Linked DNA regions of Homo sapiens. The protein of the gene in region 2 purifies or fractionates together with the protein of the main gene of each other region. This does not show direct contact. Each region holds a gene or a part of one and is shown on either strand. Other genes may lie near its edges.

What was found. Proteins that work in one complex are often made in the same cells at the same time.
Region 1: the proteins of GARIN1B (region 2) and STYX purify together in Homo sapiens (affinity purification with mass spectrometry; one large-scale study listed by BioGRID and IntAct). This does not show direct contact.

What each region holds. Positions count from the first base shown.
Region 1 is NC_000014.9:52,750,125-52,754,819, reverse strand, and holds part of STYX (serine/threonine/tyrosine-interacting protein), read right to left. Parts: intron 4,138-4,695; coding exon 4,040-4,137; intron 1-4,039. UniProt on the Homo sapiens protein: Catalytically inactive phosphatase. Acts as a nuclear anchor for MAPK1/MAPK3 (ERK1/ERK2). Modulates cell-fate decisions and cell migration by spatiotemporal regulation of MAPK1/MAPK3 (ERK1/ERK2).
Region 2 is NC_000007.14:128,713,116-128,718,578, reverse strand, and holds the start of GARIN1B (Golgi-associated RAB2 interactor protein 1B), read right to left. Parts: upstream 3,189-5,463; 5' UTR 3,138-3,188; coding exon 2,889-3,137; intron 2,880-2,888; exon of another isoform or gene 2,248-2,879; intron 1,767-2,247; coding exon 1,582-1,766; intron 1-1,581. UniProt on the Homo sapiens protein: RAB2B effector protein required for accurate acrosome formation and normal male fertility. In complex with RAB2A/RAB2B, seems to suppress excessive vesicle trafficking during acrosome formation.

The DNA.
Region 1 (4,695 bases), on a different chromosome or scaffold from region 2:
AATTTAAAACAAAAAGTCTGTACACATTAGAAATGAATAGTATGATTTTTTGGCTTTTTTGTTTTTTCTTAAGATTAGTTTCACCTTATATAGTTTGATATTTTAAAATACAACATTCTCATTTTCTTTAATAATTCTATGCATATATACGTAAATACACATACACAACAGAGAACGATTTAAAAGGAAATATTCCAAATGTTAACAAAAGTGTTTTCTCTGAATTGTGGAACTGTAGATGATTTAAATATTTTTCTTGGTGTCATTCTATACCTTCCGAAGTACTTATAAAGAATAAGTGTTTCATGGCCAGGTGTGGTGGCTCATGCCTGTAACCCCAGCACTTTGGGAGGCTGAGGTGGGTAGATCGCTTAAGCTCAGGAGTTCAAGAACAGCCTGGGCAACACAGCAAAACCCCATCTCTAGAAAAAAAAAAAAAAAATTAGCCCGATCCGGTGGTGCACCTGTAGTCCCAGCTACTTGGAAGGCTGAGGCAGGAAGATTGCTTGAGCCTGGGAGGTCAAGGCTACAATGAACAGAAATCATGCCAATGCAATCCAGGCTGGGCAGCAGAGAAAGATCCTATCTTTGAAAAAAAAAAAAGTATTTCTTTCATAATTATAAAAAATTCAGGCCGGGCGCAGTGGCTCACGCCTGTAATCCCAGCACTGTGGGAGGCCAAGGCAGGCGGATCACGAGGTCAGGAGTTTGAGACCAGCCTGACCAACATGGTGAAACCCCGTCTCTACTAAAAATACAAAAATTAGCCAGGCGTGGTGGCACATGCCTGTAATCTCTGCTACTCAGGAGGCTGAGGCAGAAGAATTGCCTGAACTTGGGAGGCAGAGGTTGCAGTGAGCCCTGCATTCTAGCCTGGATGACAGAGCGAGACTCTGTCTCAAAAAAAAAAAAAAAAAAAAAAAAAAATCAGTGTTTTGGGATATTCCTTTTTAATAACTAGTTTTAATAAACTAAATATGGTGTAAAAAAAAAACACTACAAAAGTAAAGAGTCAGCCCTCCATATCCAAGAATTTCATACCTGTGGATTCAACCGACAACAATAAAAAACATTAACAAAAAATAAGGTAAAATACAACACTAAAAATAATAAAAATAAAATCCAATACTATTCACACAGCACTTACACTGTACTAAGTATTAGAAGTAATCTAGAGATGATTTAATGTATATGAGAGAATGTGCACAGGTTATATGCAAATATTACACCAGTTTATATAAGGGACTTGAGCATCTGAGGATTTTGTTATTCATGGGGGTTCCTGGAGGCAATCCCCCATGGATATCAAGGGTACCATGAAAAATATGTCCCTCGGCTGAGCGTAGTGGCTTACGCCTGTAAATCCCAGTGCTTTGGGAGGCCGAGGTGGGCAGATCACGAGGTCAGGAGTTCGAGACCAGCCTGGCCAACATGGTGAAACCCCGTCTGTACTAAAAATACAAAAATTAGGCCAGGTGCGGTGGCTCACACCTGTAATCCCAGTGCTTTGGGAGGCTGAGGCAGGTGGATCAAGAGGTCAGGAGTTCAAGATCAGCCTGGCCAAGATGCTGAAACCCCGTCTCTACTAAAAATACAAAAAAAATTATCTGGGAGTGGTGGTGGGCACCTGTAATCTCAGCTACTTAGAAGGCTGACGCAGAGAATTGCTTAAACCTGGGAGGCGGAGGATGCAGTGAGCCGAGATCATGCCACTGCACTCCAGCCTGGGCAACAGAGCGAAACTCTGTCCAAAAAAAAAAAAAAAAAAAAAATTAGCTGGGTGTGGTGGCACATGCCTGTAATCCCAGCTACTCAGGAGGCTGAGGCAGGAGAATCGCTTGAACCCAGGAGGCAGAGGTTGCAGTGAGCCAAGATCACACCACTGCACTCCAGCCTGGGTGACAGAGTGAGACTCCATCTCAAAAAAAAAAAAAAAACAACAACAACAAAAAAAAACAAAATTAAAAACGAAAGAAAAATACGTCCCTCTACCATCACAGGCCCTGAATTTTCCTTCTTAGAAGCAATCACTATGAAGTTTCTAGCCTCTTGGTCCAGAAATTTTCTATGCATATATTAAGAATAAATATATGGAATGTAGTATATATATATTTACTCAACACATTGCAAATATATACATTGTTCCACACCCTGCTTTATTCATGTAATGCATTATCTTGGAGATCATCCCAAATCCAAACACATACATATATTTCATTCTTTTTCATGGTTACATAGTATTCTATTATATGTTCACACAATGTATTTTAGAGTATGTATCTTGTATTTACAGATATTTATAGATTGGTTTCATTGTAAAAATAAAGCAGAGCATTAAATTTTTTTTTTTATTTTTGAGACAGAGTCTTGCTCTGTCGCCAGGCTGGAGTGCAGTGGGGCAATCTTGGCTCACTGAAACCTCTGCCTCCCAGGTTCAAGTGATTCTCCTGCCTCAGCCTCCTGAGTAGCTGGGACTACAGGCATGTGCCACCACGCCCAGATAATTTTTGTATTTTTAGTAGAGACGGGGTCTCACTGTGTTGGCCAGGACAGTCTCAATCTCGACCTCGTGATCCACCCTCCTCAGCCTCCCAAAGTACTGGGATTATAGGTGTAAGCCACAGCGCTGTTTTTTTTTTGTTTTGTTTTGTTTTGTTTTTGAGACGGTGTCTTGCTCTGTTGCCCAGGCTGGAGTGCAGTGGTGTGATCTCGGCTCACTGTAACCTCTGCCTTCTGGGTTCAAGCAATTCTCCTGCCTCAGTCTCCTGAGCTGCTGGGATTACAGGCATGTGCCACCACGCTCAGGTAATTTTTGTTTTAGTAGAGATGGGGTTTTGCCATGTTGGCCAGGCTGGTCTCGAACTCCTGACCTCAGGTGATCTGCCCACCTCGGCCTCCCAAAATGCTGGGATTACAGGCGTGAGCCACCGTGCTGGCCTAAAATATTTTTAACATATATACTTTTACATAGATATTGAAGGAAGAAGCTGCCTCCCAGGATAGGAGCAAGGTGGCTTGGGTTAAGAGAAAAAGTAGAGTTACTTTCATTATATATGTTTACATATCCTTTCACTTTTGTACCATGCGTAATATACTCTATTTTAAAAATGAAGTTAAAATAAAGAACATTAAAAACCATTACATGCTCAACTGAACTTACAAGATAAATAAGAACATCAAATGAGATACCATTTTTACTCCATTAGACTTTGAGAAATTAAAAATGTTTCACAATTCCGTCTTGGAGAGATACTAAGGGAAGAGTCACTCTCACATACTTGATAATGGGAATGTACACTGATACAACGCACTGGAAAACAATCTGCAACATCTATCAAAATTTAAAATGTTCATACTCTTATATCCAGCAATTCTGCAAATAAGCCCTATCAATATGCTCACATATAAATTGAGTAATATGTACAATGATAGTCACTATATGCTATACATATTAGTACAAGGCCAGAAACAATCTAAATATCTAACAGACTAATTGAATAAATTTTAGTATAGCCATACAATGGATTACAATGCAACTTAAAAAGAATAAGCAGTTTGATATACATACCGATATAAACCAATCTCCAAAAAATATAAAGTAAAAAAGAAAGCCAATGTAAAAAAAAATTTATCTATAAGACTATGCTCATAAATTTAACCTAACACTCAAAAACTACCCAATAAAGAGGTAACAGTAGATGCTGTTTCCCTAAACCTATCCCCTAGATACTCAATTCCTTTATCCCTCAAGAGATAAAATAATGTACACTAAAACCTATTTTTCAGTATACATTATTTTTAAATTCTTTTTTATTTTTACTTTCCCAGAAACTTCTTGACAATATACACTCTTTTGAACCTTTAGAATTCTGCATTATGGGCATAATTTATTTAAGTATTTTAAGTAAAATTTATTTTAAAAAACTATGTACTATATGACCCATTTTTACAAACTAGATATGTACAGAAACAACTGATGGTACAAAACCTGAAATGAAACTTCATTAAGTGTTTTACAAATCATAGCAATAATTCTTACCTAAATAACTGCTGAAAGTTTGGTTTAATAAAGTTTGCTTCAATATTTTGTCGTATGCATATTATATGGGTTATTCCATGTTTCTGTAGTACAGGTAGCTGTATAAAAAAAAAAGCAGGGGGAGGACAGGGAAGATAAATATTTTAAAATATCAAACATCATCTTACTATATAACACAGATGTTTGAAAATACACAGAACCCACATCTCTGCTTAAGTCCAGGGAATTAAAGCTAATTTTATAATATACCTGAAGTGGGCAGCAAGATATTTCAATGATTCAAGATTAATACATTAATGTCCTCAAAAGGTTAACAGGGATATTTCATACCTACAATTTTAGAGCTTGATGGAACCTTTATGTAAGATGTTTGGCATAGCACCTGGGACACACAGCAAGTGTTTAATAAATGGTAGTTAATATATATTGACTGCAATCTTTATTGTTTAGAGAGAACCACTAAGACATAAAACAGTTACATTACCAAATACTTGGACATCACCGACCTAGTTAACAGCAGTACTGGAACCCAAATCTCTAGACAACTCCTTGCCTCTCCCAGTATACTTTAAGAGTCAGAATTAATTTACATACTTCACAGAATCTAATTAACCTTTTACCATTTAAAAATTTTCCTGAAGTTAAAAATGGCAACT
Region 2 (5,463 bases):
TGTAACTTCCACCTACCCTGCCATGATTCTCGTGTGCCCTAGACCCTATTTGAGAGAGACAGCCTAGGAGGTAAGGTGGCTAGTCATAGGATTTTACAATTTCTTTCTGTTTTTCTTTTCTTTCTTTCTTTTTTTTTTTTTTTTCTGAGGCAAAGTTTTGCTCTTGTTGCCCAGGCTGGAGTGCAATGGCACGATCTTGGCTCACTGCAACCTCCGCCTCCTAGGTTCAAGCGATTCTCCTGCCCTAGCCTCCTCAGTAGCTGGGATTACAGGCATGTGCCACCAGGCCCGTCTAATTTTTTATTTTTGGTAGAGACGAGGTTTCATCATGTTGGTCAGGCTGGTCTCGAACTCCTGACCTTAGGCGATCCACCTGCCTCTGCCTCCCAAAGTGCTGGGATTACAGGCACGAGCCACCGCGCCCAGCCAAAATTTCTTTCTTGAAAGCACCAAAGGAGCTTGCCCCACTGTCTGGCTTGTGCATTTATTGAGTTTAATGCCACAGTTAGTCTTCCCAAGGGAGTTAAAGTTCAAGGATCTGGCTTTGGATCTAATATTAGTCAGCTGGGACTGGGTGGTACTTGCTAGAGGTACACCAAGAACATCATGGAGAGGTGTGTCACTGAGGTAGCATGGAGAAATGAAGGGTTTTCTTGGACTTTTGGGAATTTCTAGAGATTCTTGAGATATCCTACAGATTATTTAAAGAGGCCCCAAAATTTAAAAAGGCTACTTCGTCCCAGACAAGCATGATGTCACTATATGCTACAGCTCTAAGTGAGACTTAGTCCCATTTATTTTACTGATTAAAAAAAAAAAACAAAAAAAACCTGGCCGGGCACAGTGGCTCACGCCCGTAATCCCAGCACTTTGGGAGGCTGAGGAGGGTGGGTCACCTGAGGTCAGGAGTTCAAGACCAGCCTGGCCAACATGGTGAAACCCTGTCTCTATTAAAAATACAAAAATTATCCAGGTGTGGTGGCAGGCACCTATAATCCCAGCTACTCGGGAGGCTGAGGCAGGAGAATCACTTAAACCTGTGAGGCAGAGGTTGCAGTGAGCCAAGATCCCACCATTGTACTCCAGCCTGGGCGATAGTCTTTTTTGAGACTCAGTCTCAAAAAAAAAAAAAAAGAAAGAAAGAAAAAGAAAAAGACAAAGAAAACTGAGGAGCAGCAAATAACTTGTGATTTTAAAAATTGAGTCCAGTTAGTTGTACACCAAGAACTAGAAATAATCTCCTTTCCCCAACCAGTGCTCCATCTGCCAGACTCACTGCCTCCTTGCCCTTGGGCCCAATGCTGAGAGATTTCCTATGAATTCAGTGGCGTCTGTGCAGCGAGAAAGAAAGTGGGCAGGTAGACTAGCCCCTGACTCCTGTCCACATGACATCTCCCTTTGTCCCACTTGGCCTCTGTCCTTCCAGTGCAACACCTGTCTTAGGATACTCTGTTGTCTAAAAAAATCAATGTCACTGCTGATGACATCTCTATCTTCTCCTTGAGTTTAGTAGTCAAGCAACCTCCACTTTGCATCCACCCCTCACCCCTCTTGTCCTCCATTCTCATCTGCATTGCTCACCTCTTCAGGAAGATGTTGGGGGCTATGGATGGTCTGTTCCATGTCTGGTTCTGCCCCTGGTGCCATTTGACACTGGCCATGAGTAGGATGTTGGGGAGGGGCAGGCAGGGTACCGAGGAGGTCACCCCCAGGGCCATGGTGTTGGAAGCTTTGTAGACGTCTCTCCAATTCCTGCCCCTTTTGACCTGCAACACAGCCCCCAGGCACAACCTGAGCATTTGGCAAAAGCTGCAGTCTGTTTCAGCCCAGGGTTTCTCAACCTCGACACTATTAATGTTTTGGGTTGGATATTCTTTGTTGAGGGTAGGATACTGCCCTGCACACTAAAGAATGCTTAGTAGCATCCTTGACCTCTACCTACTAGTTCTAGTAGCACTACCAGCCAAATCGTGACAATAAAAAATGTCTCCAGACATCGTCAAATGTTCCCTGGCAGTTGGGGCCAAAAATCAATTCTTGTTGATAGCCACTATATTGATTAAACAACTACTAGTATTTAAACAATATTTCAACCACCCATTTGTTAACAATTGCCCACAGGAATTACAACCCAGGAGTTCCCTGCCATCTGTCATTTCTGCCAATCCTCCCTGGACTGTTTCCTGGCCTTCTTTGAAAAATGTATCCTCTTGGTCCTTCCCCGAGGTGCCCTATTATCTCCTGCACCTTCACTGAACAGGAAGGTCCTCTCTAACTCCAAAGTGCTGTTCATTCTCGCTTCCATCCAACCAGAGGAGAGCCCAGGCAAGGAGACGAACGTGCACCGAGTGCCTGTTAGACAAGGTACTTTTCTTGCTGTATTTGCATTTCATCCTCAGGTCAGTTCAACCCTTTTACAATCAAGGGGCCAGATTCAGGCTGCACAGGTTACTTGCACAGTCACCTCCCAAGGAGAAGGCAGAGGACTGGAATCTGAGCCCAGCTGTCTCTGGGACCCCAGGTGCTGTTCTTTCGCCAATCCGCATTATTGTTCTCAAGAAGCGTCTCTTTTTACTGCCTCTTTGTTCATCTACTTCAGGTGACAGCCTGGGGGCTGAAGTAAACTGGGGGATTAGATACCAAATTCTCCACTCAGAGCAGAGGACCCCTGACCTTTCTCCCTGGGTGACAGCTGTCTGTAGGAGAAGCCCCGTCTGGGGCTCAGCAAAGCCCAGGTCAGTGAGGGTGGCCTTGCATTCCAGGTCCACTAGCTTCTCCTTGCCTCAATTCTCACTCTGCCCCAGTTTCAGGGATGGACTCTCTCAGTCATATCTTGGGAACAGGTTTCGAAGAATCAAAGAGTGCTATTCTGCGCCACCCAAGAATACCTGGATGAAGTTGCTTTCAAACACCACGGAGTCAAGAAACAGGTTGAATTCTGGAGAATGAACCACCCGGCAGAGCAGTCCCTCCTCCACACCTAGGCCCGCTCCAGGGTTCGGCTCTCCATCCACAGGCAAGAGGCCCCTGAATTCTTCCCAGGCATTCAGGGAAGGGAAGGTTGGATAGGATCTTGTGACTTTTACTGTCTTCTTTGATTTCCTCCAAGTCTTTCTATGTGGAAATGATGACAACATTTCTACACATGCTCAGGGGCCTGCTGCACATTTGTCCTGGGATCTCTGTCTCCCCTCCTGGCCTTGGGCAGCTGGCCAAGCCCTGGGACCACCAGTCAGCTCACAATGATGAATGGATGACATCATGAAAAACCAGGACAGACCTGCAGGAAGGGGAAGTGCAAAGGAGCCTCCCTTTTCCTCCAGAGAGCTTGTGTGCCTTATCCGTGCCTGGACATTCCCCAGCCCTTTTCGGAACCCCAGGACATAGTCCTCCCGGAACTTGCTGAGAAAGCAGTGAGCCAGGCAGAAAGCAAGCAAGGAGGGCTGTCAGGAAGATCCTTCCACTGCTAAGAGGAAAATGCCCTTCCTGCCTTTCAACCCTTCCTTACTCTGAATGCAACCTATCTCACACAACTTTAAAAGCTGCATGTCCATTGAAAACCCCATCTTCCTAAGCTTTGCAGCATGTGGGCCCCCGACACCCTGGTGGATCTGCAGGTTATGGAAGCAGTTGCAGGGCAGTTGGTGCCTGCTCTGCATTCTGCCGCGGCAGGCTGGTTACTTCTGCAGGACTTACTTCCCTTAGGAGGTCAAACTGAAGAAGCAGGAGAAGTAATTAGTTTCTTATCCAGAGGCTGGCTTTGTCAGGGCGCTGGCTGGGAGGAATAGAACCCCGATGAGCAGCTCTGCTAGGTCCCAAGCTGTTCCCCCTCTTGGAGAGTGACAGCATCCCTCACCCCTGAACCAGAGGAGGAAAGAGCCCAAATCATGGGCTGCTAGGTCAGGAAGAAAGAACCAAGCAGGCTGACCACTATTCAAGGCCATTCCTGGGAGAAACTGTTTTCTAATTTGGACCAAATTCTAAATTTTTTTTTTTTTTGAGATGGAGTCTCGCTCTTGTTGCTCAGGCTGGAGTACAATGTGCGCGATCTCGGCTCACCACAACCTCTGCCTCCCGAGTTCAAGCGATTCTCCTGCCTCAGCCTCCCGAGTAGCTGGGATTACAGGCATGTGCCATCACGCCTGGCTAATTTTTTGTATTTTTAGTAGAGACAGGGTTTCTCCATGTTGGTCAGGCTGGTCTCGAACTCCTGACCTCAGATGATCCGCCCACCTCGACCTCCCAAAGTGCTGGGATTACAGGCATGAGCCACTGTGTCTGTCCCAAATTCTGAACTTATTACATAATGAATTAACCATCAAGGTCAAATGTAACACATATAGACAGAGTTTGACAATCATTACACACAAAGGACAAGCATGGAGGCTGACTTTTGTATTTCATTATAAAGTCAGGGAGAAGCCTAAAGGGCCTGGAGGCTCTCACCATCCAATTCCATCAGTCCTTCCCTCTGGTCATTCAGATCACACCCCTGCTCCAGCACCTGTTATAGCTCCTGGCTCAGTAAACCAACTTCCAACCTCACTTTTCTCATTATCTTTTGTTTACCAGGTAGGAAAAGTGTCTTCATGGTCACATTCTCTAAGGATTAGATCAGAGACCACATCCTTTGGTTTGCATTTCCCTGGAAATAACCTAGAAAGGGAACACACAGCACAAAAGCGTAGTAATTAATAAATTGATACGTTGCTGTTCACAGTTAAAGCTTAACCACAACAATAAAGCTCATTGGTTTAGATATACAATTTGAGTATACTTGGCCACTGAGACATCCAAGAGTCAGTTGGGGAGATGACTTCTTCTCTTTTCCATACAAGTCTGTTAAGCCCACTTCTATGGTGTTCAACCCTCAGAGGAAGAAGGCTTGGGTGCCCAGTCTAGAAAGCTGATTGTGAGCAAAGGATTTTTTAGCTCTAAACAAGATGCTAAGCAGTTTTGTAAATGGTGCTTTAAGGTGGCTCACATCTGTAATTCTAGTGCTTTGGGAAGCCTAGGCTCCTGGGAGGATCACTCTAGGACAGGAGTTCAAGGCTACAGTGAGCTGTGATCTTGCCACTGCACTCAAGCCTGCACGAGAGAATGAGATCCTGTCTCTATTAAACAAAAAAATGATGTGCACCCCTTCCTACTTCCCCTGCAAACCTCAAAAACAAGCATATTGAATCTTTTTAGAAACCATGTGACAGATACTTAGTTGTCTATTAGTTGTCTGTCCCAACACCCATTCTGTTTCTTTCTTTTTTTTCTTTTTGAAATAAGGTCTCACTCTGTGGCCCAGGCTGGAGTGCAGTGGCACAGTCTTGGCTCACTGCAACCTCCATGTCCCGAGTTCAAGCAATTCTCCTGCCTCAGCCTCCCGAGTAACTGGGATTACAAACGTGCAGCACCATGCCTGGCTAATTTTTGTATTTTTAGTAGAGATGGGGTTTCACCATCTCTACT